Linked DNA regions of Homo sapiens. The protein of the gene in region 3 purifies or fractionates together with the protein of the main gene of each other region. This does not show direct contact. Each region holds a gene or a part of one and is shown on either strand. Other genes may lie near its edges.

Region 1 (7,034 bases), on a different chromosome or scaffold from region 3:
CTTGATGTGTTGCCTGGCCTGGTCTGAACTGCCTCAGCCCCCAGTGTCGGGATTGTAGTCATGAGCCACCGTAACCAGCCTTGATGAGATGTAATGTTCCTATTCTGCCTTCTTGAACTTTGCTCAGTCAGTACAAGTATTCTGTTCAAACTGATTAATTAAACCCAGGAACTGAATACATTTAGATAAAACTTGCTACTTGAGACTGGGGCACTGGGTAGATTCGAATGATGCCGTATCTCGTGATGTCTACCCTCTCACTATCCACATTCAGGGATGGAAAGGATTTGGGGAGTGAGGAATGTTTATAGAAGTTCAGCCCAGCTCCCTGCTGTAGAATGTTCTTGTATGAGCAGTCCAGCAGTCAGTAAAGCAACCCTTTTCATTGTTGAACTGCTCTCATTCTTAGAAAGTTCTTGTTTCTGTTGACTTGAAATTTGCTTCCGTGGTTTAATTTTTCCCGCTGTTCCGAATTCTTTCACGTGCCACGCAGGATGTGCCTGTTCACTGAGTTCATAATCTTACTTCTCATGGGCCTTGTACTTAGCCTTCTTCAAGCTGATCATGCCTCAGGTTTTGCCTCCTTCTGTCACCAGGCCTCCTCTTCTGGGCGCCGGCCTCTGGCTCTTCCCTTGGGGTCTGGCCAACACCGCAGGCTTTGGGCCAGCATCAGCTGCTCCCAGGCTCTTAGCTCTTGGGAGTTGCTCCTCCATCCTTTGCCTCCCTGGGCACTGACATTGCACCTGGTCTCAGTCCAGGCTTGGCCAGCCTGACCGGCTCTGTGGGGCCTCCTCTCCCTATAGGATGGCCAGACGCCGCGCCCTCCCACTGTGCTCCAAGGCCCCACCCTGCCTCTCTGGACACTGGATCTGTAGTGTAACGGGAACAGGTCACATGACAGTTTCCTTTCTATAACTTTTTATCTTCTGTAGACTATTGAGATTTAGTAAACATGTCTGTTTGCACATGCTTAAAATGGTTGGAATGTTTTGCCTTGTCTGTGTTTGCAAGCGATGAAAATTAAAGGTGGTAGGGATTATATTGATTTGTTTAATCTTGGACTCGACATCTTCAAAGCTATATTTTTTGGGTGATACTTGAAAATCATACAATGTCTGCCTGTTTATTTATTTATTTATGAGATGGAGTCTCATTCTGTCACCCAGGCCAGAGTGCAGTGGCACGATCTCTGCTGATTACAGCCTCTGCCTCCAGGGTTCAAGCGATTTTCAGCCTCTGCCTCCCGAGTAGCTGGGGTTATAGGCGCCTGCCACCATGCCTGGCTAATTTTTTTATTTTTAGTAGAGACGGGCTTTCGCCATGTTGGTCAGGCTGATCTTGAACTCCTGACCTCAAGTGATTCGCCTGCCTTGGCCTCCCAAAGTGGTGGGATTACAGGCATGAGCCACTGAACCAGGCCAGTTTTTTGTTTTGTTTTGTTTTTTGTTTTTTAAGACTTAACTTTGTTACTCTTTGTTTTGTTTAACATTTCAGGATCATATGCCAAGTAATAGAGGAACATTTGTTAGGTTGGGCTAGGAATGGGGACTGGGGTAAGGCCGACTGTAGTTCTAAGAAGAGGTTCCAGTTTAACACCATTTCTTTAAAGAATTTTACCGTATTTTAATTCAGAGCAAAAGCCACACAGCTGCATATAGGCGTAAGTGAGTCCTTTGAGGAAGTAGGTGACTGAGCTGTAACAAGTCAAGATCATACAGCCGAGGGATTGCAGTGCATGTCTCTTTTCATTCTGAAAGAACTTCTCACTATTTAAAAACTATTTTTAAAGTTACGAAATATTTTGAAATATAGTAAACTTTTTTGGCCTTTTTTTCTTCTTTTGCTTCTTGTCTTCAGTCTGCATATTTTTTTTTTTACCGAAAGCCCACCTCTCTAGTAAGTGTGAAAGGAAGAGAGTGAGAAACTGGTGGTGTGACCTCTACTCTGGAGCCCCGTGTCCCTTCTGAGAAAGATGCCTCTTGTTGTAGAGAGGACACACAGTGGTTCTGCTCAGCTGCACTTGGGCATGGAGAACAAGAACCGATATAGACGAAGGCCTGAATCCGCAGAGGGAGACCCTGGGTTAGGAGGCACTTCTGCAGCCTTCAGAAAATGCAGACAAATTAATTCACTTATTGGACTGCTTTAATAGAATAGTGGCTTGCTCTGTGGATTCACAGAGGATTATTTGAGGTCAATGATTGGAATGTGATTTTAGAAAATATTCTTTCCTTGGAATTCTTTGGTTTTATGCTGTAATGTAGTTTGTTTGTTTGCTTTAAAGGAAAGTTTGTGCTTTCAAGGAAGGTTTTAGGATGAAATGGCCAAAAATCAAAAAACAAAAATGATCATCTTCACTTGAATGCGGGTGCTACATGAGTCTAGCCTTAGATTTGTATTATTCCAAAGTTAGGTAAGTGAGGTCAGCCACAAGATATTATACACTAGACATTTTACATTGATTTAAATTATATGGTTGGAGCTTGAATAGATTTTATAATATTCTTTGGACCAAACCTGCCTATCAGAATCACCTGTGAACAGTTTTTTAAAATAATAGCGACTTTGATCGCACACGTGGAGGTGCAGATCTAGCCAACATACTGTTTTAGGAACAGCTCCTTGTATTGTCTGTGCCATGCGTGTGTGTGCGCCATGCATGCACGTGTGGGGTGTGTTTGTGTGCACTTCTGTGTGTATCTACGCCTGTGTGTGAGTGACCACTTGATCATGCACACACATCCCTTAGAGGCACGGACTTGTGGACTTATCGGTCAGTTAGGAATGTGTTGTGTGCACGTGTGTCTATGTGCGTGTTGCATGCAAGTGTGAGGTGTCTGTGACTACACACATGCCAGTCTCATTATTCCCAGCTTCTCATACTGCAGTTGTTTTTGTTTGGTACAAAGGTGGAAGCTCTGCCAAGGTTTTTTCTTGATGCGAGCCAGGATCGAAGGGCTATGGTGTTTAAAGCTTGCGAGCTGAAGGCCCTTGGAAGGCAGGAACCTCAGATAAATTGTAGTCTGTAAGATTCCTGGTCGTTCTCTGGGGGGAGTCAACAATGATCTGTGCTTCACTCCCAGCGTCTGTTGACCATGCTTGGCTCTCAGGAGGCCGGACCAAGGACAGCGTTTGCACTCCTGGTCTCACCACGCCCAGTGTTGGCTTAGGGAACCTCTTGTGAATGCAGCCATGGACATTTGCTTTTCAGAGAACGAGAGTGAAGGTTTGGGGAATGTTTCTGTCCTTACCTATATTGGCAGTAGGCAGTGTGAGAGGTGGTGGTTCTTGGGTTGTGTTCCCCTTGCCTGGTGTTTTCCTCTGATTTCATACTGCTATAAAGAACTGCCTGAGACTGGATAATTTATGAAGGAAAGAGGTTTAATTGACTCACAGTTCAGCATGGCTGGGGAGGCCTCAGGAAACTTAGCATCATGGCAGAAGTTGAAGGGGAAGCAAGGCACCTTCTTAACAAGGCAGCGGTAAGAAGTGTCGAGTGAAGGGGGAAGAGCCCCTTATACAACCATCAGATCTTGTGAGAACTCATTCACTATCATTAGAAGAACATGGGAGAAACTGCCCCTATGATCCAATTACCTCCACCTAGTCTCTCTGCCTAGACACGTGGGGATTATGGGGATTATAATTCAAGATGAGATTTGGGTGGGGATGTGCAGCCTAACCATATCAACTGGTGTTCAGATGAAGAGGTTGTAGAAGCATATCTACTGCTTAAAGAGGGAAATTGGAGTCAGCAAGCTCTGGGCTTGGTTTTCTTCCACATTTAAAACAAACCCAAGGAAGAGATGGTGCAGCCGTGCAAGCCCCTGGTGGATCTGTTGTGTCTCACACAGGTTTTCTATTTTCTCTGTGTCTTCAGCAGTGTGCATCTTACTTAAACCGCCTCAGGGCTCCTTTCATCCCCAGGCCCAGTCCTCAGCTTGACACATCATAGGCCCTCAGCACCTAAGTGTTCTGAGAGGGAGTGCAGCTCCTAGAGGTCCATGTCCCATGTCCTCCTGCTTCCTGCATATCATTTGGGCCCCAGTCGGTCCTTGTTACTGCGGGTCTTGTGCTGTCTCTGGAACAGCCCTTTATGGGCACCATCTACTCACTCATTCACTTCTGTTGGCTGACGTGGCCCCTGAGCTCTCTTCCTGTGCTTAGTTAGGCCGCGCGAGGCCAGAGGTTGAGTGGGGAGGCTTCCAGCCCCTGCCTTCTGTCCCAGCTTCAGGCTGGCCTGGTTCCATGTCCTGCTGTCCTGCTTCAGCCATTCCTCTATGTGGCTTTCAGTCCTCTCACAGATTTCTTCATTTTTGCAAGGTAGCGTGGGAATGATGACTAGCACATGGCAGCACACATCAGGCAGGTTTATGAAATTATGTTTTAAGAGAACACAGAATCACAAATTACTCATCCTGTATATGTGTTAAAATGTGTAACCTAATTGCTGAACAATGAAAAGCAATTCCTTTTATATTTAAAAACTCACTAGTTAGCTGAGAACCTAATGGTAGTTGCAATGTACTTTAAATAGAAAAGTCCTCTTGCTTGACAAAGGTAAAGGAAACTGTTCGGTCCGACTTTGTTCCTTTCATGCCTGCCAGGGCTTCTGGTTTCACGGAGACCTCAGGCTAGGAGCAGCCCTGAGCAGGGAGACTGAGTTACAGAGAATCCCCACCAAGTTGCAGGCAGAGGGACAGCCGAGGCCCTCAGGAAGTACACGAGAGCAGAACCACTATGGCAAGTTCACTGAGAAATCTGGAAAGTTAGAATCCCAGCCCGAGTCCATCAAATGGAGCATCATAAAATTAAGTTTTCCTTACTGTGAAATGGCAATTTGTAATGATTTCTGAGAAGTGGGACCCATGGTGGTGTCGATGTCTGAGCCAGGTGAGGGTGAGATCCCTGGCGCCATGGGCTGGCCCCCAGGATGCCCTGGAAAACGCATTCTGTTCACAGCTGTGTGATTCTTTTCTTTCTGTGTTGGTGAAGCAGCCAGACCCGGTCCGTTTGGAATGCCTGGGATGGTGCCGCCGCATGTTCCTCCTCAGATGCTCAACATTCCGCAGACCTCTCTGCAAGCAAAGCCCGTGGTAAGGCCTTCCCTGCGTTGGGTCGGGTGGCGGGTCTCAGACAGGGTGCGTGCATTGAATTTCAACGAATGCTAAAATAAGTTCCTAACCTCTTGAATTGATACGTGAAATAGATGCCAGTGTTTGTTGAAATAAAAATGAGCCAGGAAACGTCAGCCTGGGCCTGAGTCGGGTCCTGCTGGCCACGTGTGCGTGACCTGTGCCCTTCGCTTCAGGCCCCACAGGTGCCCAGCCCAGGGGGCGCCCCGGGCCAGGGTCCATACCCGTACAGCCTCTCTGAGCCAGCACCTCTCACTTTGGACACGAGCGGGAAGAATCTGACGGAGCAGAACAGCTACAGCAACATTCCTCACGAAGGGAAGCACACGCCGCTGTATGAGCGGTCCTCGCCCATCAACCCGGCCCAGAGCGGCAGCCCCAACCACGTGGATTCCGCCTACTTCCCTGGCTCTTCTACATCGTCATCTTCCGACAACGACGAGGGCAGCGGAGGGGCGACAAAGTGAGTGGTGCGTGGGTCGCTGGGTGCTTCCTGGCGGGTAGTGACCTGGGGAAGCTGCCTTCTGGCCTGCCAGCCCAGCTGGTGTTTTGCTCAGAGATGTAGTTTATTGCAGGTGGGTGATGGTCAGTCTGTACTCAGATGGGGGCTCCTTGGACAGAGAGGAGAGAGGAAGAGTAGGTATGTTCTTGAAGTTTCCATGATTTAAAATCTGCACTATCCCAGCCCCATGGCCTGGAGCCACAGGAAACTTTCTGGGGAGGAATTTGACAAGAACTGGTTTGTGTGATGACCAAAACATGGGGGCATTTGTCCGGTGTGGTGCCACTCACACCCGTCACAGCAACCCCCTGCCGACCCCCGAAACATTAATCTTCTGGCTCCTGGATCAAGGGAGCTCTGAATTTCCTCTCCTTCTCCTAAACTCAGCAGGTTACAGGACACTTTGGAAATAACACTGTTTGCCCAAGCAAAACCCTAGAAAGCTGCCTAGACCCAGGCTGGAATTGTTTCCTTAGAGGAGTATTTTAAACACTGTGTGTCCCTGAATAAATGGGTTCACAAATACATAGTTGGTTAAAATTTGATCGAGGAAATCTTTAATTTGCACTCCTCCCTTTCTTTAAATTGTCTTATGTTTAAAACAAAAAAAACAGGGAAAGAATATTTCTTTTCTTTAAGTCAGTGTCTCCTTTTCCTTGGTGTGAACTCTACTTTACAGCGCAGATAACCAGGGCTGGTTGATGTTACATCTGTTTCTGATGTAGGAAATGTAAGAGACATAGGTGTCAGCTTCCATGCCAGTTCTTACCTTGTGTGTCACCTGAAGCAGGTGATCTTTTCCTCTCTGTCCTCTGTCCATCTGTGAAATGGGAATAAATGTCTGTTGACCCAGGGCAGAGCTTACTGAAGGACTCTCTGCCATCCAGGGATGCATACCCTGTTTATAGCAGAGAAGTATAACATTAATAAATGTTGATTTGTTGTATGTGCAGAGAAGTATAAAATTAATAAATGTTTATTTGCTGTATATGCAATGCCAAGACTCTAAAATGAAGTAAAGAGTTGCAATTGAATATTCAAATTTTTAAATTAACCTCTAGCAAGATAATATATTGAGTACCCATTGAATCAGAATCTCTGGTTGGGGCCCCCAAATTTGCATTTTAAATAAGCACCTCAGTCAGTCTTTAGCACACTGAAGTTTGAGAACAACTGCTTGATGGTCTTGGAAGCCCTTATGTGCCAGATTTCTAAGGCATGTGCATTTTGTTGTAAAACGTGACTCATGTCAGCAAGGTCCAAGTGTCTGTACAATACAGTTTTTGTCTTAGTAAGAAATGTTCTTTCTAAACTGTGAAACATAGGTAAGAAGTAAGACAAAAAGCAAAAGAAGTAAGCTTTATGACCCCAACAAGAGTTCCATGCTAGTGATGGAG
Region 2 (7,034 bases), on a different chromosome or scaffold from region 3:
TGCCACCTCGCCGCTGACATCACGAAGCCGGGTCATCAGAGGCTGGGTGGAACCCAAGCGGAGAGGCCGCCGCCTTTCCCACCAGGTTCATCCTTCCCCTCCTGGGATCAGCAAGATTCTCAGAGAGCATACGGATCGGGGCAGGAGGGACAAAGGGCACCCAAACAAGGAAAGGGCCATGGGTGCGGGGAGGCTACGGGGGCGACTGGGGTGGGAGGAGGGGCGCCTCGCTGCTCCTGAGCTGCCTGGCTAAGCTGGGCTGGTGTGCGGTGCTGAGTGATCTTACCCATGATACAAACCCTTATACCAACCATACACTGAGGTGTTGTAAGGGGAGCGTAAGCATCAGCTGCAAGCCAGCTGCGTGGTGGCTGCAGTGACAATAAGAACAGTCAATTAATACGGCGGCCCCTGGACACGCCGCAGCCCTGCCCACCCTCCCCCACCCATCCCTGCCCATGTGGACGCCGCGGCAGCCTCAAAGGGGGCTTTGGAACTGTAGGGGCAGGCGCTCAACATGCCTATCACCCCACTGCCCGCTGAGGAACAGGGTGGGGGGCCAGGGTTGGGGAAGCGGAGGGTCGGGTGGCCCAGCCCCAGTTCTACTGGGGGGGGAAGAGAGGGCAGGTTCAAAGGCCAGTCCTCATTGCAACCTGGCCACCCCCAACTTCAGTGGGGGGAATGGGGGAGGTTCCCCCAAAATCCGACCCCTCCCCCCACCTCCAGCTGGCCCCAGCCCCCCACCCAGTTCCCTCTTTGCCCCTGAGGTTCAACGTGTGACACTTACCTCCCCAGGTTCACACACACACACACGTTGTGGGGGATTTGGTTTTTGTTTTTTAAAAAACACGTATATAAAAAAAAAAAAGATACATCAGAAACAGAGGGAGGAGGAGAAGAGACATCGCTAATGTCAGGTGTGGCAGGGTGGGGGAGGGGACAGACTGGGAGGGGCTGGGGCAGCAGAGAAGTGAGAGCAGGTCAGAGGGCAGGGCTCGGCGGGAGGTACTCACAGTGCATGTCTCGCTCGTGTTCGTACTCGATGAAGGCATAGCCACGGGGCTTTCCTGACCGCTTACTGTAGACCATGTGTATCTGTGGGGCACATGGGGACAGGGGTGAGTCCTGCCACAGGGCGGCTCCGCCCCACCAACCCCACAACAGCCTGCACACCAGGCCCTGGGCCGGATGAGGCCTCAGACCCTCTCTGTCCTTCAAGAGCCCTGAGTGACTTATGTTCTAATGGCAGGAGCAGAGGACACAGAGGCGGCTTCCTGGAGAAAATGACACTTAAGCTAAGACCTAAAGAAAGAAGAGAGATGAAGGAAGACAGTGAGGTGTCAGCCTGTCAGGTGGAATAGCAGTAACTCCAGAGGTCCAAGGGCCCGGGGGCAGGAGGGCAGGAGGCTGGGGATGCGCTTCGGCAGGGCTGGCTCATGTACTGATGACAGAGAGTCCCAGGAGATGAAGCCACAAAGGTGGGCAGGCCCGGGGTCATCAAGCGCCCCAATGCCAGGCCGAGAAGTGTGGTCGCTGAGGAGCTGGGAAGGGTGTTGAGCAAGGAAGGGCCAATGTGGGTGGTCTACGTGGAGTCAGGAGGACACAAATGGAATTAGGGAAACAGGAGGGAGTTGTGAATGCCAATGGGACGGGAATTCTTTTTTTTTTTTTTTTTTTTGGAGACAGAGTCTTGCTCTGTTGCCCAGGCTAGAGTGCAATGGCTCAATCTCAGCTCACTGCAACCTGCACCTCCCGGGTTCAAGCGATTCTCCTGCCTCAGCCTCCCAAGTAGCTGGGATTACAGGCGTGCGCCACCACACCTGGGTAATTTTTTGTATCTTTAGTAGAGATGGGGTTTCACCATGTTGGCCAGGCTGGTCTTGAAATCCTGACCTCATGATCTGCCCTTCTCGGCCTCCCAAAGTGCTGGGATTACGGGCGTGAGCCACTGTGCCTGGCCAAGGACAGGGAAGTTCTAAGGGAAAAAGAAAGGACACGTGCACAGCCAGGGAGGCTTGAGAGAACGTGGCACGATGAGGGATGCGTCCCATCCCGAGGATGGCAGCAAGAGAAGGGAGGAGATGGGGTGGGGTGGAGGTCCATGAGGCCACACAGCTTGGGGAAGAGCCCTGGAAGGCCAGATGGTGGCAGCTGGACCTGTCCTAACATGCTAGGGACCCATGGGATGCTGTCAGCAGAGATGGGGTCAGCTCTGGATGTCAGAAAGACCCCTTGGGGACCATGTCAGGGAGAACAACGGGCAAGGCAGGGCTGTTGAGACAGAGGTGGCCAGAATGAACCAGGGAAGATTTCTGGGAGGTAACAGCATTTGAGCTGGTCCCTAAAGGATGGCTAGTTCGCCATTCACATCACTACCAGTTGGCGACCAACCTGTATCATGGATGAACCTGGGACCCCACAGCCTCCAAAACACAACCAAGATTCCTGACTTGAATGGATCAGAGGGACAAGGGTGGGGCCAAGGTTGTCACTGGGCTGTGCAAGGCAGAACAACGTGTGTGTGTGTGTGTACACATATATACACATGCACATACACACACACACACAGGCACGAGACACCACACTCGGCTAATCTTTTGTATTTTTGTAGAGACGGGGTTTCGCCATGTTGGCCAGGCTGGTCTTGCCTCCTGACCTCAGGTGATCTGCCTGCCTCGCCCTCCCAACATGTGGGATTACAGGCGTGAGCTACCACGCCCAGCCTACAATACTTTTTTTTTTTTTTAAGATGGAGTCCCACTCTGTTGCCCAGGCTGGAGTACAGTGGTGTGATCTCGGCTCACTGCAACCTCCGCCTCCTGGGTTCAAGCAATTCTCCTGCCTCAGCCTCCTCAGTAGCTGGGATTACGGGCGCCCGCTATCATGCCCAGCTAATTTTTGTATTTTTTTTTTTTTTGTACAGACCAGGTTTCACCATGTTGGTCAGACTGGTCTCGAACTCCTGACCTCAGGTTATCCGCCCACCTCGGCCTCCCAAAGTGCTGGGATTACAGGCGTGAGCCACCGTGCCTGGCCCAACAATACTTTTTTTTTCCTTTGTGTGGAGAACGGGGTCTTGCTATATTGCCCAGGCAGGTCTCGAACTCCTGGGTTTAAGCTATCCTCCCGCCTCTGCCTCCTTAAGAGCTGAGATTACAGGTGTGAGCCATTGCACCCGGCCTGACATGTATAAATATTTTTAAAAGACGTATCAGAAACAGAGCAGGGAGAAGAGACATGGCTAACATCAGTTTGTGTGTAGGATGGCCTCAAGCCCTCACTACTGCCCAGTGAAGGCATGCGTCTCCCATGTTAGATAAAGGAAATCAGACACAGAGCACTTCAGTGACTTAAAAGAAGATTGGTAAAACAAAGCCTTCCTCTAAAACGGGACTCAGCATAGGTATTCTGCCAAGACCCAGAGAGTAGATATTTCCAGCTTGGACGGCCGTATACTGTTGCAACAATCCAACCCTGCCTTACAACAGTAGCAGCCAAAGACAATGTGTAAACAAACAGACCTGCCTGGCTGAGCAGCAGGAAAACTTTAAGTCTGTAGTTTGCCAACCCCTGCTCTCAACCAACCACCAGCAGTCATTACTTCTCATTTTACTTCTGCTGCCCAAGGTCTGCTGCATGGAGATACAGTCAGGATGCATAAATCCAGGCCCTGAAATGGTGTGAGCCATGCTCAGGGCTGGGACCTCTCTCCCTCCCTCTCAGGATACAGCCCCTCCTCCATGCACCCCCAATTCAAACACCCTGACCCACTCCACTTACTCTTTTGATAGGTCCGTACACCTCAAACTCTCTCCGGAGCTTGGATTCTGTTGTGTCATAATTCTACAAGGAGATGGATATGACGTTAAATGGGAGAACAGAGCTGTCCCACAGCCCCTGGAACATTCCCCTGTACCTAGCCTATTTGACCTTTGTGCCAGACCCAGGCTCTCAGCAGCGTGGGGTTCCAGGAGCTAGGAGCTGGGGACTTACCACTCTCGCCACGAAGAGAGTCTTGAAGGCATCCCCCTGAGCATTGGGATCATTGTGAGGGTCCCCTGTGCAGGAAGAAAGGAATTTTATAAGTTGAAGGTGTCCATGGTCTCAGGTAGCAAAACAAATACGATGGGCAGAGGCCAAGAAGAAAACGGTGGCATTGGGAGAGGCCCCTAACTGGAGGAACATGGGTGGTGACCTGGCAACCTCAGGGACGCCCCTCTCTGAACCTGTTTCTCTGAGGCACAGTGGGCTTTATCAGAGTGGCTGAGAGATAATCCAGGCTGCTGAGGAGAGGAGGTAAGGCTGACTTCAAGCTGACAGGATGTGGGCAGGCCCAACTGCCATTTCAGACCTACATAAACCCTAAGGGCCCTATCGCTCCCAGATGCAAGGTGATCCAAACAGTAATAGCCCAACTGGGCCTCCCTGGAGATGCAGCTGATGCCCCCAGGTTCTGAGCTCCCTCCTGTAGGCAGGGCCACACTGCCACCTACTGGACACAGACTGCAACTACAGCCCACAGGAAAACCTGAGACCAAGCTGCCCCAAGGCTAAGAATGAGAGCCAGGAAAGCAAACACTAAGTAAGCTCTGCTTTCCTGTCTGTGCCCTGTGTCTCTAAAAAGGAACCCAGGAACTGACTAGCGTCAGATCAGATTCTCACTCCAGCCTCACTACTGTGAGGCAAACTGTTCTACCTGGCTACTAAGGAATAACAATCTCCAAAGAAAAGAGCCAGGAATCTCCTAAGAAACCAATTTCATAGGTGATCCTGCTGGGTCAGGCCTGGGAATAAGTCCTTTTCACCAAATATGGTGGCTCCAGCACATAATGACCCTGACTCCTGCCGGGGCCTTAAGGACACTCTGCCGGTTCTTCCATGGTATAGTGTTTCCCTCGGAAGCCCTGTCACATTCTGGGAGAGCATGAGAAAAGGAATAACATTAACCCATTTATGCCAGAGGTTGCAATTTTTTGAATTGCAGACACGTGTGAAAAATCAGACCCTGGTGATGACCCGAGCAGTAGGATATAAATAACTCCCACATGCTTAGCGTTCCAATAATGGAACATTAGACATATAATTTACTGAACACGTACTATGGCCCAGACACAGTGCTGGACACTGATATTTATTTATTACTATTTTGCAAATGGAAGTAAAACAGAACAAACTCGAGACACAGAAAAAGGGAGGTGTTAAAGTGGCGAAGGGCCAAGGCAGACTTCACCTCTCACCCCGGGCACTTGAACTACCAGGCTCCTTCCCCGAACCCTCGGGTGCTACCTTTTCAGGAAGACAGTGTGGGTGTTGCCAGAAGCTAGAGAAATAAAGTCTCAGATTTTTTTTTTTTTTAAACAGAGTCTTGCTCTGTTGCCCAGGCTTAAAGTGCAATGGCGCAATCTCGTCTCACTGCAACCTCTGCCTCCGAGGTTCAAGCAATTCTCCTGCCTCAGCTTCTCAAGCAGCTGGGATTACAGGCGTGCACCACCACATCCAGCTAATTTTTGTATTGTTAGTAGAGATGGGGTTTCGCCATGTTGGCCAGGCTGGTCTCGAACTCCTGACCTCAGGTGATCCGCCCTCCTCGGCCTCCCAAAGTGCTGGGATTACAGGCATGAACCACCGCGTCCCGCCAGATTTGTTTCTTATGAGAGAATTTAACTACAAGTATAAACTAAGGTCAAGATGACTTTAAGGAATGTACTTTTTTTGAGATGGAGTGTCACTCTTGTTGCCCAAGGTCAGTGCAATGGATGGCGAGATCTCGGCTTACTGCAACCTCCGCCTCCCGGGTTCAAGCGATTCTCCTGCCTCAGCCTCCCAAGTAGCTGGGATTACAAACACACACCACCACACCCAGCTAATCTTTTGTATTTTTAGTAGAGACGGGGTTTCACTATGTTGGCCAGGCTGGTTTCGAACTCCTGACCTCAGGTGATCTGCCTGCCTCGGCCTCCCAAAGTGCTGGCATTACAGGCGTGAGCCACCGCACCTGGCCTAAGAATATTTTAGAAAACAGAAGCCTAAGCCACAATTTAAGGGAATCGCTATCTGGGACAAATGGAAACGTCTGAAAACAACTCCATCTCAGCGTTCTCTCCACCCACTCCTCAAGTTCCTTGCCAGGCTGGGCACAGTGGCTCACACCTGTAATCCCAGCAATTTGGGAGGCTAAGGCGGACGGATCACCTGAGGTCAGGTGTTTGAGACCAGCCTGGCAAACATGGCGAAACCCCGTCTCTACTAAAAATACAAAATTACCAGGGCATGGTGGTGTGCGCCTATAGTCCCAGCTACTCGGGAGGCTGACGCAGGAGAATTGCTTGAATCTGGGAGGTGGAGATTGCAGTGAGCCGAGATCATACCACTGAACTCCAGCCTCGGCAATAAAGCGAAAAAAAAAACAAAAAACAAAAAACGTTCCTTGCCATACCTTATCCCTGAGCGTTGTAATTTTCTATGGCCAGGTCTCTCAATCTGCACTGGCTTTTTTTTTTTTTTTTTTTGCACCAGCTAACTCTCATTCATTCAATAGGTAATTCTTTTTATTCGCCGATGTTTGTGCTCTTGTAAGTAAGTAATTCTTAAGCATCTACTATGTGCCTGGAAATGCTATAGTTGTTGGGGATTTCGCAGTAAACAAGACAAAAAAAGGTGCTGGGCGCAGTGGCTCACAGCTGTAATGCCAGCACTTTGGGAGGCCAAGGCAGGCGGATCACTTGTGACCAAGAGTTCAAGAAGACCAGCCTGATCAACACAGCGAAACCTCATCCCTACTAAAAATACACAAAAAATTAGCTGGGTGTGGTCCAGCTACTCAGGAGACTAAGACAAGAGAATCGCTTGAACCAGGGAGGCGATGAAGGTTGCAGTAAACCGAGATCGTGCCACTACAGTCTATCCTGTGCAACAGAGTGAGACTGTCTCCAAAAAAAAAAAAAAAAAGGTGTCTACCCTCATGGGGTTCATATGCTAATGAAAGAGGTAAATAAGGAGATCCTATGATCACATCAGATGACGACAGAGAATAG
Region 3 (7,034 bases):
GGAGTTCAAGGTTAGTGAGCATTGATCATGACACTGCACTCCAGCAAGGGCAACAGAGTGACAACCTGTCTCCGAAAACAGTAATAATAATTAAAACCGTTTACTTAAGGCCGGGCGCGGTGGCTCACACCTGTAATCCCAGCACTTTGGGAAGCCAAGGCGGGTGAATCACAAGGTCAAGAGATCGAGACCATCCTGGCTAACACGGTGAAACCCTGTCTCTACTAAAAAAATACAAAAAAAATTAGCTGGGTGTGGTGGTGGGTGCCTGTAGTACCAGCTACTCAGGAGGCTGAGGCAGGAGAATGGCGTGAACCCGGGAGGCAGAGCTTGCAGTGAGCCGAGATTGCACCACTGCACTCCAGCCTGGGCAACAGAGTGAGACTCCATCTCAAAAACAAATAAATAAATAAATAAATAAATAAATAAAATAAACAATTTACTTAAAAGTAGGCTGGGTGTGGTGGCTCACACCTGTACTCCCAGCACTTTGGGAAGCCGAGGCCGAGACTGGGGTCAGGAGTTTGAGACCAGCCTGGCCAACAGGGTGAAACCCCATCTCTACTAAAAATACAAAAATCAGTAGGGCATGGTGGTGTGCACCTGTAATCCCAGCTACTCAGGGGGCTGAAACAGAAGAATCACTTGAACCCAGAAGGCAGAGGTTGCAGTGAGTTGAGATCACACCACTGCACCCCAGCCTGGGCAACAGAGGGAGACTCCGTTTCAAAAAAACTTACTAAAAAGTCAAAAAAAGCAAATGATGGTATGACCAATATATCCTACTGGCTGTATACCAATACCTACCATTGGAAATTTTTTTTTTCCCCCTTTTTGGTTTTTTGAGACAGGGTCTCTGTTGCCCAGGCTGGAGTGCAGTGGCATGATCACAGGTCATTGCAGCCTTGACCTCCTGGGACCACAGGTGCACGCTGCCTGGCTAATCTGTTACTTTTTGGTACAGATGGGGTCTATGTTTCCCAGGCTGGTTTCAATCAATCCTTGCACCTCAGCCTACCAAAGTGCTGGGACTACAGGTGTGAGCAACCACACCCTGCCAAAAGTATCTTTTAAAAGACAACAAAATGCAAAGTCTCCTATTAATTAGATAGTACAAAATAATTATGCCCCCAGAAAAGGATTCAAATCACAACAGAGAAACCCAGAAAGAAATGTAGAAAGTTTTAGGACAAGGGTTAATTCCTACGCCAATCAAAAAGAATGCTTATCTATAGAAGTTTCTCCATTATATTTAAAAACTATATTAATAAGACTATATTCTAAGCAACCTACAGCAATGCAATTTTATAATTTAACGTATTTATTAAACAAGGCAATTGTACAAATGGAAACATTTCCTAGTGTCTACTGGCACTCGAAATCACTGTTACTAATGGATTATAAACCATCTTCCTCTAATGATGTATCTTTACTGTAAAGTTTCTGGAAAACATCTATAAATAAGTTATAGTGGTCACCTACCATAATTGGTACATTTTGACGGCAAGAATTAGGTAACCTACGATGTCAGTTTAATGATTCTTTTTCATAATGTTAAAAAATGGATGACACCACTAGCTAAATTCTGCAGTGGTCCCTCAGCACATACGGGGGACTGATTCCAGGAACCCATACCAAAATCCATGAATGCTCAACTCTCTTAAATAGCATAGTGTTTGCACATAACCTACGAACATTCTCTCATACACTGGTGTGTTGTTTTTTTTTTTTATTGGGTTTTTTGGGAGTATCTTCAATCCTCAGCTAGCTGAAACTGTGAATGCAGGACCCACAGTAGAGAGAGCCCACTGTATTAGCTTTCTGTAGTTATGATACCTCATTGCTTACTGGATCATTCTGCATTTTCACTTACTGCTACTTTATTGCTACTTGGCAAAAATATTCTACTCTTTTATAGGAGATTAAAGGATTTTGGGACAGGCAAGGTGGCTCATGCCAGTAATCCTTGCACTTTGGGAAGCCGAGGTAGGAGGACTGCTTGAGACCATGAGTTCAAGACCAACCTGCCAGGCACAGTGGCTCATGCCTGTCATCCCAGCACTTTGGGAGGCCAAGGCGGGCAGATTACTTGAGGTCTGGAGTTCAAGACCGGCCTGGCCAACATAACCCCATCTCTACCAAATATACAAAAATTAGTCAGGTGTGGTGGTACGCGCCTATTATCCCAGCTACTCGGGTGGCTGAGGCAGGAGAATTGCCTGAGCCCAGGAGGCAGAGATTACAGTGAGCCAAGATCATGCCCACACACTCCAGCGTGGGTGACAGAGACTTTGTCTCAAAAAACAAATCATAAAAACAAACTAAAGGATTTCTAAGGTACCTCTTTCTAGAGCTCTAAAATGCCCCTCCCCTCAAATTGAACTGCTGAAACTAAAATTTTGACAACTCAAAGGTTACCAGTAAATCTGAATTCCCTCTAAAACACAAAGCACTCTTTTATGAAGAGAAAAATCAGACATGATTTGAAAATATCTAAATTCTCAAATTCTCTTTGTAAAGGCTTATATTCTTTCAAGTAACATAATTTTGTACTGTTTAACTTCCATCATACTCAATTATGCAAACCAGTGGGGAATATTCACACAACATAGAAAAGGAAGACTTGGCCGGGTGCAGTGGCACACGTCTGCAATCCCAGCACTTTGCGGGGCTGAGGCAGGCATATCTTCTGAGGTCAAGAGTTCATGACCAGCCTGGCCAACATGGTGAAACCCTGTCTCTACTAAAAATACAAAATTTAGCCAGGTGTGGTGATAAATGCCTGTAATCCCAGCTACCGGAGAGGCTGAGGCAGGAGAATCGCTTGAACCTGGGAGGCGGAGGTTGCAGTGAGCCAAGATCGCACCATGGCACTCCTGCTGTCTAGGTGACAGAGTGAGATTCTATCTCCCAAAAAAAAAAAAAAAAAAAAAAAGAAAAGGAAGACTTATGAGTTTTATTTTTCTCTTTAAGGCTTGCTTAAAGTGATAAACCTCATGGTAAAGGAAGGGGTAAAACTCAGGAGGGAGGGAAAAAAAAATGAGTCTGAAGATTTTAAGTTTGTCTGGAATTACCCACAGGATACGTAAGCCAGATAAAGCAAATTTAACAAACATGGCATAGTGAGCTATCTTGTACAAAAGTTCTCCCCAGTCGTGTTGCTTGATACATTCTATGGGTTTAAATTAGCCCCCAACTCTTCAACTATAAAATGCAGAAACCACTTCTGTCACAGAACTTAATAAAACTAGTTTAAAGGACTTACATAAACTATAATTTAAAATATTAAAATTTCTTTCTAGCCAGGCGTGGTGGCTCACGTCTAAAATCCCAGGACTTTGGGAGGCCGAAGCGAGTGGATCACCGGAGGTCAGGAGTTCGAGACCAGCCTGGCCAACATGGCGAAACCCCATCTCTACTAAAAATATAAAAATTAGCCTGAGCGTGGTGGCAGGCGCCTATAATCCTAGCTACTCGGGAGGCTGAGGCAGGAGAATCACTTGAACCTGAGGGGTGGAGGTTGCAGTGAGCCGAAATCATGCCACTTCAGCCTGGGCAAGAGAGAGAAACTTGGTCTCAAAAAAAAAAGAAAAGAAAAAAGAAAAATTTCCTTTTTAAAAAAGTTGGAAAGATTACCAGGTCCTTACCTAACATCTGGTATTTTTAAATCAAACATTGCCACTCACCATAAAATCTTTTGTTTCATCAACTAGAAATGTATCACAATGTCTTTTGTGAATTATTTAAGAAAAAGAGATGGCTCAGGTATGGCCAGGAAGTATGAGAGCTCTTACCACAGTTACTTTTCTTAATCTTTTCACATTCCTATAAATTTAAACAAACACACAAAAACGTCACTAAGCCAGATGTTTATAAGAACCAATTGCTAGGAATTCTACCATGCCGCCTTTTAGATGCTGAATCCTATCAACTATACATGCAAAGAATAACACTACAATGCTTGCACAGTGATGTGGGAAAAAAAAAACCTGCCTAAATCAGTACTTCAAAAAATGTTTGGTAAACTCTTAGGCACACTAAGAAAAAAACTTGATATTAAAGACAGTGAACGTGAAAACTGAAGGGGAAAAAAGGACAACTTACCAGTTTAACAGCCTCCTGAGCTGCTTCTTTTGTACAAAAAGTGACAAACGCATAACCTCTATTGAGACCAGTGAGTGGATCCATCATTAGACGAAGATCCCATATAGGTCCAGCTTTCTCAAATAATGGAACAAGTTCATCCTCAAATAGATCTCTTGGGATCTTTCCCACAAATATCTGTAAATTAAATATTAAGTAAAAACCATGGAGAATTGCTTTAGGAAACCAGATACCTGTGCTTTTACTACAAAAGGTACAAGTTTTTAGTTGCTTTACCTCAGTGCCAACAGAAGGCTGCTGACCTGAATAAACGGAATCTGGAGGTGGTCCTCCATACTTCCTCTGTCCAGTGGTCACATCAAGTGTGTAGCCTGTTCTTTCCAAGAGTGCCTTGAAAAGTTCAAACGTCATTAATACATTTAATTCACTAGACCACACCCATATATTTAGCAGTTAACATCCATCTTGCTCAAATCTTTCCAATTATCTTGGCATGTTCCCTTATAAAAACAGGTTTGTGATGTCTGTTTTAAAATTTCCCCTTAAATGTGTACTTGTTATACTCCTAAATTATTATCAGAAGTCCAGGGTCCTGTTCAAATTACTTTCTAGTCTCCACTTAATTACTGAATAGTGTGCTTAATGGACAACAAAAAGTTAAGACCAATCCATCAGCAACTTTCAAGACAGGATGTATTACTATGTTAATACCATCTTAAAAAATGATTGTACCTAATTTGGTTGAGCATCTTTCAAATCTGGATCTCTCACCCAATAAATTCCCTATAAACCCCACTCCTAGGTACATACTGCCATTCTGGGCATTGTGCCAACCTCAGAAGAAATTACACTTCCCATACCAAGTCTAGAAACTTGGGAGCTACAGGGAAAAAAAATCTCCTATTATTATTTGACATTTACGTGCCATATTTCATGGGATAGCATGGGTCCTTCAGAAAAAAGTAACAGCCAAAACGACTTTTAAAAACTTTATGAAACTGCAACGTTACATAACCTCTACATTTTAACTCCCAAAAAGTAACTGTTAAAATTTACACAACTCATATTTACTCAGAGCATTAGGTGTTTATTCCTTATTCTAGGCAAAGTATAGAAAGAAGTATAGGCTGGGTGCAGTGGCTCACACCTGTAATCCCAGCACTTTGGGAGGCCAAGGCGGGTGGATCAGGACATCAGGAGCTCAAGACCAGCCTGGCCAAGATGGTGAAACCCTGTCTCTACTAAAAATACAAAAAATTAGCCAGGCGTGGTGGCACGCGCCTGTAATGCCAGCTACTCAGGAGGCTGAGGCAGAGAACTGCTTAAACGCTTAAACCTGGAGGGGCGGAGGTTGCAGTGAGCGGAGATCGCGCCACTGCACTCCAGCCTGGATGACAGAGCAAGACCCCATCTCAAAAAAAAAAAAAAAAAAAAAAAAAAAAAGGTACACTCCTCCATTATCTGAAGGAAAAAGTCAAGAATTATTCCCCTTCTCCACTGTCTCAACCACAAAGCACAAAAGTGGTTTTCTAAACAAAACCAATTTTATTAGCTAGGACATTCTGAAATAAAAACAGACTAATCCTAGCTATCTGACAAAATTTATCAAAATGCATAATCTAGGGTCACCTCAGTCTCTGAAAATTACTGGACAGATTTTTAACATTTTCTACTCAAAGGACACTAACTGTTTATGAAAAATACTGTAATTAATAAAAACATTCATAAACTTGCTCACATCTATAACATAAACTAAATGAGTAATAGCTCATCTTTCCATTTTCTCACATGTAATCCCTATGCTATAAACGGATTTTTTAACCTTAATAGTTAAGACCCAAATAACACTTTTTGTCAATCCATAAAAACAAAAAGGAAAAACTTATTCCCTCTGTCAAACTTCCTCTAAAAATGTCTCTATGCCTTTTTACCACAACTTAGCTCTCATTGAAACTGTAAGCAGCCAGGCATGGTGGCTCACACCTGTAATCTCAGGACTTTGGGAGGCCAAGGTGGGTGGGTCACGAGGTCAAGAGATTGAGACCATCCCGGTCAACATGGTGAAACCTCACCTCTGCTAAAAATACAAAAATCAGCTGGGCCTGGTGGCACCCACCGGTAGTCCCAGCTACTCGGGAGGCTGAGGCAGGAGAATTGCTCGAACCCGCGAGGTGGAGGTTGCAGTGAGCCAAGATCACGCCACTGCACTCCAGCCTGGGTGACAGAGTAAGACTCTGTCTCCCAAAAACAAACAAACAAACAAACAAAAAATTAAGCCACCCCCTTGCAAAAAAAACTGAAAGCTAAAAGTCACAAACTAAAAGTTTAAAAACTTTAGTTCTAGCTCACCAATGCAAACTTGATTACAACTGAATTACAATGGAGACAACTATACTCCACTTTTATGGAAAAACTAGATTTACAGATCAAACTCAATTCACTCACAGCTAGATCTGTGAAAGCCTCCAATTCATGGTTGTCTTAAACAGCTAACTCCATATACCAACCTTTTCCATATTCTAGGCTTTCCCTGTTTCCACACCACTACAACAATGCTCAAGGCCTATACCCTTAACTGATTTTCTTAAACCATACGCTTGGCTCAAGAGCACTGGCACACTACAAAGCACACCAGGTTAAAAAGTAATACAATCACCACATTGTCTATAAATTAGAAAACTCACCAATATAAATATCAAAACCAAGCTGAATTTGAAGCCATTCACCATGATTTTAAACCAAAAAAAAAGCCTCCTCCTCCTAGCCTCAGTTTCTCATCTACATACCCACACTAAACAATCTTATTGTCAAAGCTGCTTTGAGAAATAGTCTAATAATCCATACTGATGGAAGTGGAGGGCAGCAGGGTTAACATTCTAAATTCATTGGGGTTTGAGACTCCTAAAAAAAAAAGCCAGTTGCCAAATGTA
Region 4 (7,000 bases), on a different chromosome or scaffold from region 3:
CACCCGGGTTCAAGTGATTCTCCTGCCTCAGCCTCCTGAGTAGCTGGGATTACAGGCATGCGCCATTATCCTCGGCTAATTTTGTATTTTTAGTACAGACAGGTTTTCTCCATGTTGGTCAGGCTGGTCTCAAACTCCCGACCTCAGGTGATCCGTCCACCTCAGCCTCCCAAAGTGCTGAGATTACAGGCATGAGCCACGGGGCCCAGCCGAAAGATTACTATAAATAGTAGGTTCAGCATGCACTGAGGATGAGATAAAGCATGGTGTACTGGGCACTGCTGGAGTAAATGGTGTTGGTAGCAATGAGGTAGAAATTAAGCTGTAAGGTTAGCAGAGGCCAGGACATGAAGGATCTTATCCTCCTATGAAAGGGTTGAGACTTTATCCCACAAGTTTTGTGGAGTTGCTTAAGGAGATAACAACATGGCTAGACATGCAATAAGTTGAAGATAAATCCGATTAGTTCACTAGGCCAATGGAAACCTGGAAACCTGAGATCTTTTAGGGGCTTCGCCAAGTCAAAATTATTTTCATAATAATGTTGCCCTTTCCACACTCATTCCCTCAAGGGTACAGTGGAGTTTCCTAGACATATATGACGTGATAAAATCATTGCTCTGATGACTAATGGAACATGATATTGTGTTTTAGAGTTCCAGTTTTAATTTCTAATACAGTAAGTATCAATAGATATAACCCATGTAAACAAAAGCTTTTGGGGGTCCCTAACATTTGCTAAAGGGATTGTGAAACCAAAATGTTTGAGAATCCTTGTGATAGTCTATGGCATAAACAAAGAGAAGGCCTCAGAAGAAAGAACACCAGGTTTGGGAGGCAAATTTTTTCATTTTTAATTTGAATTCAAGATTCTGAATAAGTCCAGTGCTAGAATAGCATTGCTAAGAAAAAAAAAGATTCTGAAAAAGTTACTTTAAATAAGCTATTTAGGTAGAGATGTCAGGGAAGCAGCTGGATCAAGTCTGGCATTGTGAGAACGGTTCAGGCTGGAGATAGAGGTACAGTAGTTGTCAGTGGCAGAGTGGCATCTGAGGATCACGGATGAGATTACCCAGGGAAGATGAGAGAGTGAAGAGATGCAGCATCCCCACAGAACAGGAAGAACCCACACCACACTGTTTTCCTGCCCACATAAAGCCCCATCAAGGTTACAACAGAGACCCCAGCCTTACCAGCTTTCCTTTGAGAAAAACCATTCCCTTCACTTTGGAATCAATCTCCTCGCCCAGCTGCTCTTTAAGTTCTTTCCAAGCATAACTAATATTTGGCATTTCAATTGAGCACTGCAAGATCATGGTCACAAAACCCTTACAACACAAGAAAGGAGAATAAAATTAAAGTGCTGAAAATAAACCTAATTGATAAATACCTGCTTTTGTGATTCTAAAATATTTCTTGAAAAGTTATTCCTAAAAACATACATCTCACACAAACAATTAGTACGAACAGTCCCTCGTTTTACTTGGGGAACTCTGAGTAAGACTGGTTGATTGTACCAATGTCAATATCTTGGTTGTGGTATTATAGTTTTCCAAAATATTGCCATTTAGGGAAGCTGAGCAGAGTATACAAAGGATCTCTCTGTATTATTTCTTACAGCTACATGTAAATCTACAATTATCTCAATAAAAATTTGAATTTACAGGAAAAGAAAAGCATACACCTTCTAAAGTTTCTAGGTATGCTGGCTAAATGTATTATATGCATTTATGCGCATATATATGTTTGGGCTACTTTAGGATTAAAACAATTAAAAATCACATACCACAAAATTCACCATTTGAAAGTATATAATCCAGTGTTTTTTTTGTTTGTTTTAGTATATTTGTAAGATCTGCAACCATTCAGCACTATCTAAAATTTCAGAACATGGCATAATCCACCCAAAAGAATCCTGCATCCATTACTAGCCACTGCCATTCCTCCCTCCACACAGCCAGTCAGGACCACTCATATTTTCTGCCTCTATGGATTTGCATGTATGTGTGTGTGTGTTTAAACATGGGAATTATTGGTTCTTTTCTTTTCTGAGACAGAGTCTCACTCTGTCACCCAGGCTGGAGTGCAGTGGCACCATCATGGATCTCTGCAGCCTCAACCTCCTGAGCTCAGGTAATCCTCCCTCCTCCCATCCCAGCCTCCCAGGTAGCTGGGACCACAGCATGTCACCACGCCCAGCTAATTTTTTTTTTTTTTATTTTTTTGTAGAGACAGAGTATCACTAGGTTGCCCAGGCTGATCTCAAACTTGTAGGCTCAAGCCATCCTCCTGCCTGTGCCTCCCAAAGGGCTGGGATTACAGGCATGAGCCACTGTGTCTGGCCAGAAATTGTAAAATACAATTAATACTTTACTAACTTCATGAGAAAATGAAAACAACTGGGAAGCTTAAATGAAACCCTTTCATATCCTGCTCATACCCCAAATTATGAAGTGTCAGGAATGTGCTGCAGAACCTTACCACATTTGAGTTGATCAAGGAGCGCTGGTCTACGGACGTGGCACCTGAAATATGGGCCAGTGCTGCTGCCAGAGCTTCCACAGCTCCCTTCTCCTCTATCAGCTTCTCAGCTGATTGTTTGAAGTGACTAATGGCAGTGGGAGGCACGGAATCCAAAAGCCTGTTGTTTGAGAGTGTGTTAGGAGAAAGGATACTAGAAGTGGACACATTTCATTTCTAAGACATCTCAAGATAAATGAGTAACTTTCCAAATCTTTCACATGTGTAACATATTTATTTTTGATGCAGTATATAATAATCATATTTCTATAGTAATAAATCCATTCCTTTGACTGTATGTAATTCTAATTTATCACCTACCCCACCATTTTATCCTAAGGAAATAATAAAACAAGAAGTTCACCACGGTGTTACTTATAATACACAAAAAGTACAAACAATTTTAAAATGTGCATCATTTGGGCTGCTTATATAAGCCACAAAACAGACATAATAAAATGTCATACTACCATTAGATGTGATGATGAATTATGTCAAGAGTTTTTATACAAGAAGCATGTGTTACTTTTAGGATCAGAAAAAACCTATTTCCATTCTGAAGTTTAAAAAAAAAAGCTGGGTGTGGTGGCACATGCCTGTAGTCCCAGCTACTTGGGAGGCTGAGGTGGGAGGATTGCAGTGAGCTATGACTGTGCCACACACAATCATTTTAAGAAACTCCGTCTCTTTAAAAAAAAAAGAAAATAAAAGAAATAAGAAAAAGACCTCCAAAGTCAGTTTAAAAAATGATAAGGACCTTTATGGGACTATTTGTACATTCTTAAGGGGGTCACTATTATCTTGGCAATAATAAATGTCCCATTCAAAGTTGAAAAAGATCATCCAGTAAAAAGGGGAGAAAGTGACATGCAGCCGTGTCAGGGCTGGCACGCTGGAGGCTGTTTGTTGTATACCACCAGCATCTTTGTCCCATTCCCCTTCTTGGCCATCTAACCCCAACTCTCCTTAACTGGCACCCAAGGGAACCCTGTCTGTAGGACACTTAAAAAAACATGCCATGCTAAAATAAATTTGAAAAATGCAGTTAAAATACACTCTTCCAGGCTGGGTGTGGTGGCTCACGCCTATAATCCCAGCACTTTGGGAGGCCAAGGCGGGCGGATCATGAGGTCAGGAGATTGAGACCATCCTGGCTAACACGGTGAAACCCCGTCTCTACTAAAAATACAAAAAATTAGCTGGGCGTGGTGGCAGGTGCCTGTAGTCCCAGCTACTCGGAAGGCTGAGGCAGGAGAATGGCGTGAACCAGGGAGGCAGAGCTTGCAGTGAGATGAGATTGCACCACTCCACTCCAGCCTGGGCAACAGAGCAAGACTCTGTCTCAAAAAAAAAAAAAATACACTCATCCTTCCTTTCCTCCCTTCCCTGTCTTCTTTCTTCCTTCCTTCCCTCTTTCTTTTTTTTGAGATAGTCTCACTCTGCCACCCAGGGTGGAGTACATTAGCACAACCACAGCTCACTGCAGCCTCAACCTCCTGGGCTCATGCAATCCTCCCATCTCAGCCTCCAGAGTAGCTGGGACTACAGGCACTTGCTACCACATCTAATTTTTGTATTTTTGTATTTTTTTTTTTTTTTTGAGACAGAGTTTTGCTCTTGTTGTCCTAGCTGGGGTGCAATGGTGTGATCTCGGCCCACTGCAACCTCCACCTCTCGGGTTCAAGTGATTCTCCTGCCTCAGCCTCCCAAGTACCTGGGATTATAGGCGTGCGCAACCACGCCTGGCTATTTTTTTGTATTTTTAGTAGAAATGGGTTTTTTCCATGTTAGCCAGCTGGTCTTGAACTCCTGACCTCAGGTAATCCACCCGCCTTGGCCTCCCAAAGTGCTGGGATTACAGGTGTGAGCCACCGCACCCGGCCTAATTTTTGTATTTTTTATAGAGATGGAGTTTCACCGTGTTGCCCAGGCAATCCGCCTACCCCAGCCTCCCAAAGTGCTGGGATTACAGGCATGAGCCACCATGCCTGGCCCAAAACTCTTTCATTAACAAAACTTTCCTGAACTATTAATATGCTGATTGACATCCAGGATTTCCTTTGATCATGGACTCCCTGTGTCTGTTTTTTAAATAAGCATTTACAGTAATTGTGAAAACTACTATAAAAATGATGCCCAAACTCAGTGGTTCTTTAACAGAGAACATAGGTCACCATCAGGAGGCATCTGGAAAATGGTTTCTGGTTTTTATAATGCCAACCCTACTTACCCTGAGTATGTGGCACAGGGGAATCAGCCACGGATCCTAAGCAGCTAAATATCCTTCCATTTGCAGGACAATCCCATAAAAAATAATTCTCTTGCCTCCAATGCCAGCAGCACCTCCATTTGACAAACTGTTAATTAACCTAATCCTCACCATCTAGACATTTACTATTAACGAAGCAATCAACTTTCATCCTACCAGGGAAGGAACTGGATTAATGTAGATTTGGAATGTAATCTGTGGTCTAATCAGCCAGTGGGTGAGAAGCACCTATACTATACCTAAGATATTATCCCTTAAAATATCCTAGACAAAGCAAACTATTTTAATAGTGGTTTCCTCTGGTAAACAGGATAGGACAGGAATGAGTAGAAACGAGGGTATCCACTTTGTGAAATTCTACTTCAGCACGGTCTGGTTTTTTTTTGATAAACAGGTTATCAGTTAAAAAGAATAGGCTGTGCATGCTGGCTCACACCTGTAATCTTAGCACTTTGGGAGGCTGAGCTGGGAGGACTGCTTGAGACCAGGAGTTGAGACCAGCCTGGGCAACATAGTGAGACCCTGTCTCAAAAATTTTAAAAAAAAAATTTTTTTAAGTCAAATCTTATTACTGTACAAAGACATGCAGTATTTGAACCAACACTAAAACAGACCATAGCAGTGGTAGGGAACATACCTGATGGCATCTTTGCTGGAAGCTTTTATTATTTCTGTTGCAGAAGGAACACCTATTCGTTTGAACTTAATTCCCTACAGGAAAATGAACCACAGTTTAATGTACAGTGGCCATCAATTGTTTCCAATAAGATAAGCAGTCCCCTAATTTTTTAATATAGGCCAAATGTATGTATTACATTAAAAAATGAACTTTTAATTTTAGACTTACAGAAAAGCTACAAAGACAGTACAGAGAGCTCCAGGTTTCTGCTATTATTAACATCTTACACTGTTAATGTATATTTGTTTCAACTAAGAAACCAACATGGCTAAACTATTAATCAAACCCCAGACTTTATTCCATGTCTGTCTTTCCTTCTTTCCTTGTTTTTCATGACTTTGACAGTTTTAAGGAGTGCTGGTCAACAGTTTTGTAGAATGTCCCTCAGTTTGAGGTTGTCTTGTGTTTTCCTCATGCTCAGGGTTACATATTTGGGGGAGGAATACCCGAAGTGAATGCTCGCCTTACCACCTCTTATCAGGGGCACATGGCTATGTGCCTATCACTAATGATGTGACCCACGATCAACTGGCCCAGGTAGTGTTTGTTCATCTCTCCTCGGTAAAGTCCTCACTCCCCACCTTACTCTATTCTTTGAAAGCAAGTCCCTAAGTGCAGTCCACTCAAGAGGAAGGAGACGAGTGAAGCTCCTGAAGGGGCAAGAATCTACATACACTATTCCAATTCTCCTGGAGGAAAAATTAGTCTCTTCTCCCCTTTATCCTTTTGACATACCCTCATTCATTTGATTTTCAAGCAATTCCTACAGCCCCTCAATCTTAATTATCTCTGGTTCATATTTATCATTGTCTGAAAACTTCCTTTCAAACATATGAAAACAAAATCACTGTTTTCAAATGCAAAGTTACTTCAGAATGGGCCTTTTATCACAGGACAACATATGTACCTAACAATAAGCTTTCAGTCATTGCCACACACTAGAAATAAAAATATTTTAAAGTGGATAAAAATTGAAGAAACCAAAGACTGACTTTAGAACTCAACATTTGCTTAATGAAAGGTAAGAATAGTTTTACCGCTTTTTGCTCCACTTGTACTAACTGATATTCTTCCTTGTGCTGATAAAAGCAGATGCACACCCCCGTCCTTCCAGCTCTGCCTGTCCGCCCGGATCGATGAATGTAGGACTCTACATCCTATTGAAGTAAAATACATGAGTAACACTAAACCAAAAAAGAGAGACAAACACCTGAGTAGCCTATGCAGGTCAGTGAACACTAGCAATTGTGGTTATAAACCTGGGGACATGAGGGAGAAGGTCCCTTAGCACTTCAATTTAAAGACCTCTGGCAATTTTTAAAGCTTCTAGAACAATGGTCCCTGTCCTGCAGGCAAATTTACAAAGAGCATTGTCTAAATAGTGCTTGTCCATTAGAGGCATATATGTAATTCCAATTTTCAGTCTTCCAGTAGACAGACTGAAAAGATTTCTTTAAGAAGCTTAATGTATTTTAACTCAATATATCTAGTCTTTTTTTTTTCTTTTGAGACAGAGTCTCACTCTGTCACTC

Evidence for each region.
Region 1: the proteins of SYNCRIP (region 3) and FAM120A purify together in Homo sapiens (co-immunoprecipitation; 4 studies listed by BioGRID and IntAct, with this or other methods). This does not show direct contact.
Region 2: the proteins of SYNCRIP (region 3) and SNRNP70 purify together in Homo sapiens (affinity purification with mass spectrometry; 4 studies listed by BioGRID and IntAct, with this or other methods). This does not show direct contact.
Region 4: the proteins of SYNCRIP (region 3) and DDX21 purify together in Homo sapiens (affinity purification with mass spectrometry; 3 studies listed by BioGRID and IntAct, with this or other methods). This does not show direct contact.

The regions. Positions count from the first base shown.
Region 1 is NC_000009.12:93,510,672-93,517,705, forward strand, and holds part of FAM120A (constitutive coactivator of PPAR-gamma-like protein 1), read left to right. Parts: intron 1-4,995; coding exon 4,996-5,096; intron 5,097-5,311; coding exon 5,312-5,598; intron 5,599-7,034. UniProt on the Homo sapiens protein: Component of the oxidative stress-induced survival signaling. May regulate the activation of SRC family protein kinases. May act as a scaffolding protein enabling SRC family protein kinases to phosphorylate and activate PI3-kinase.
Region 2 is NC_000019.10:49,095,451-49,102,484, reverse strand, and holds part of SNRNP70 (U1 small nuclear ribonucleoprotein 70 kDa), read right to left. Parts: intron 4,059-7,034; coding exon 3,994-4,058; intron 3,844-3,993; coding exon 3,781-3,843; intron 3,652-3,780; exon of another isoform or gene 3,639-3,651; coding exon of another isoform or gene 3,522-3,638; intron 1,096-3,521; coding exon 1,014-1,095; intron 327-1,013; exon of another isoform or gene 312-326; intron 1-311. UniProt on the Homo sapiens protein: Component of the spliceosomal U1 snRNP, which is essential for recognition of the pre-mRNA 5' splice-site and the subsequent assembly of the spliceosome. SNRNP70 binds to the loop I region of U1-snRNA.
Region 3 is NC_000006.12:85,632,863-85,639,896, forward strand, and holds part of SYNCRIP (heterogeneous nuclear ribonucleoprotein Q), read right to left. Parts: intron 4,495-7,034; coding exon 4,381-4,494; intron 4,282-4,380; coding exon 4,105-4,281; intron 1-4,104. UniProt on the Homo sapiens protein: Heterogenous nuclear ribonucleoprotein (hnRNP) implicated in mRNA processing mechanisms. Component of the CRD-mediated complex that promotes MYC mRNA stability.
Region 4 is NC_000010.11:68,973,170-68,980,169, reverse strand, and holds part of DDX21 (nucleolar RNA helicase 2), read right to left. Parts: intron 6,626-7,000; coding exon 6,506-6,625; intron 5,501-6,505; coding exon 5,427-5,500; intron 2,642-5,426; coding exon 2,482-2,641; intron 1,329-2,481; coding exon 1,194-1,328; intron 1-1,193.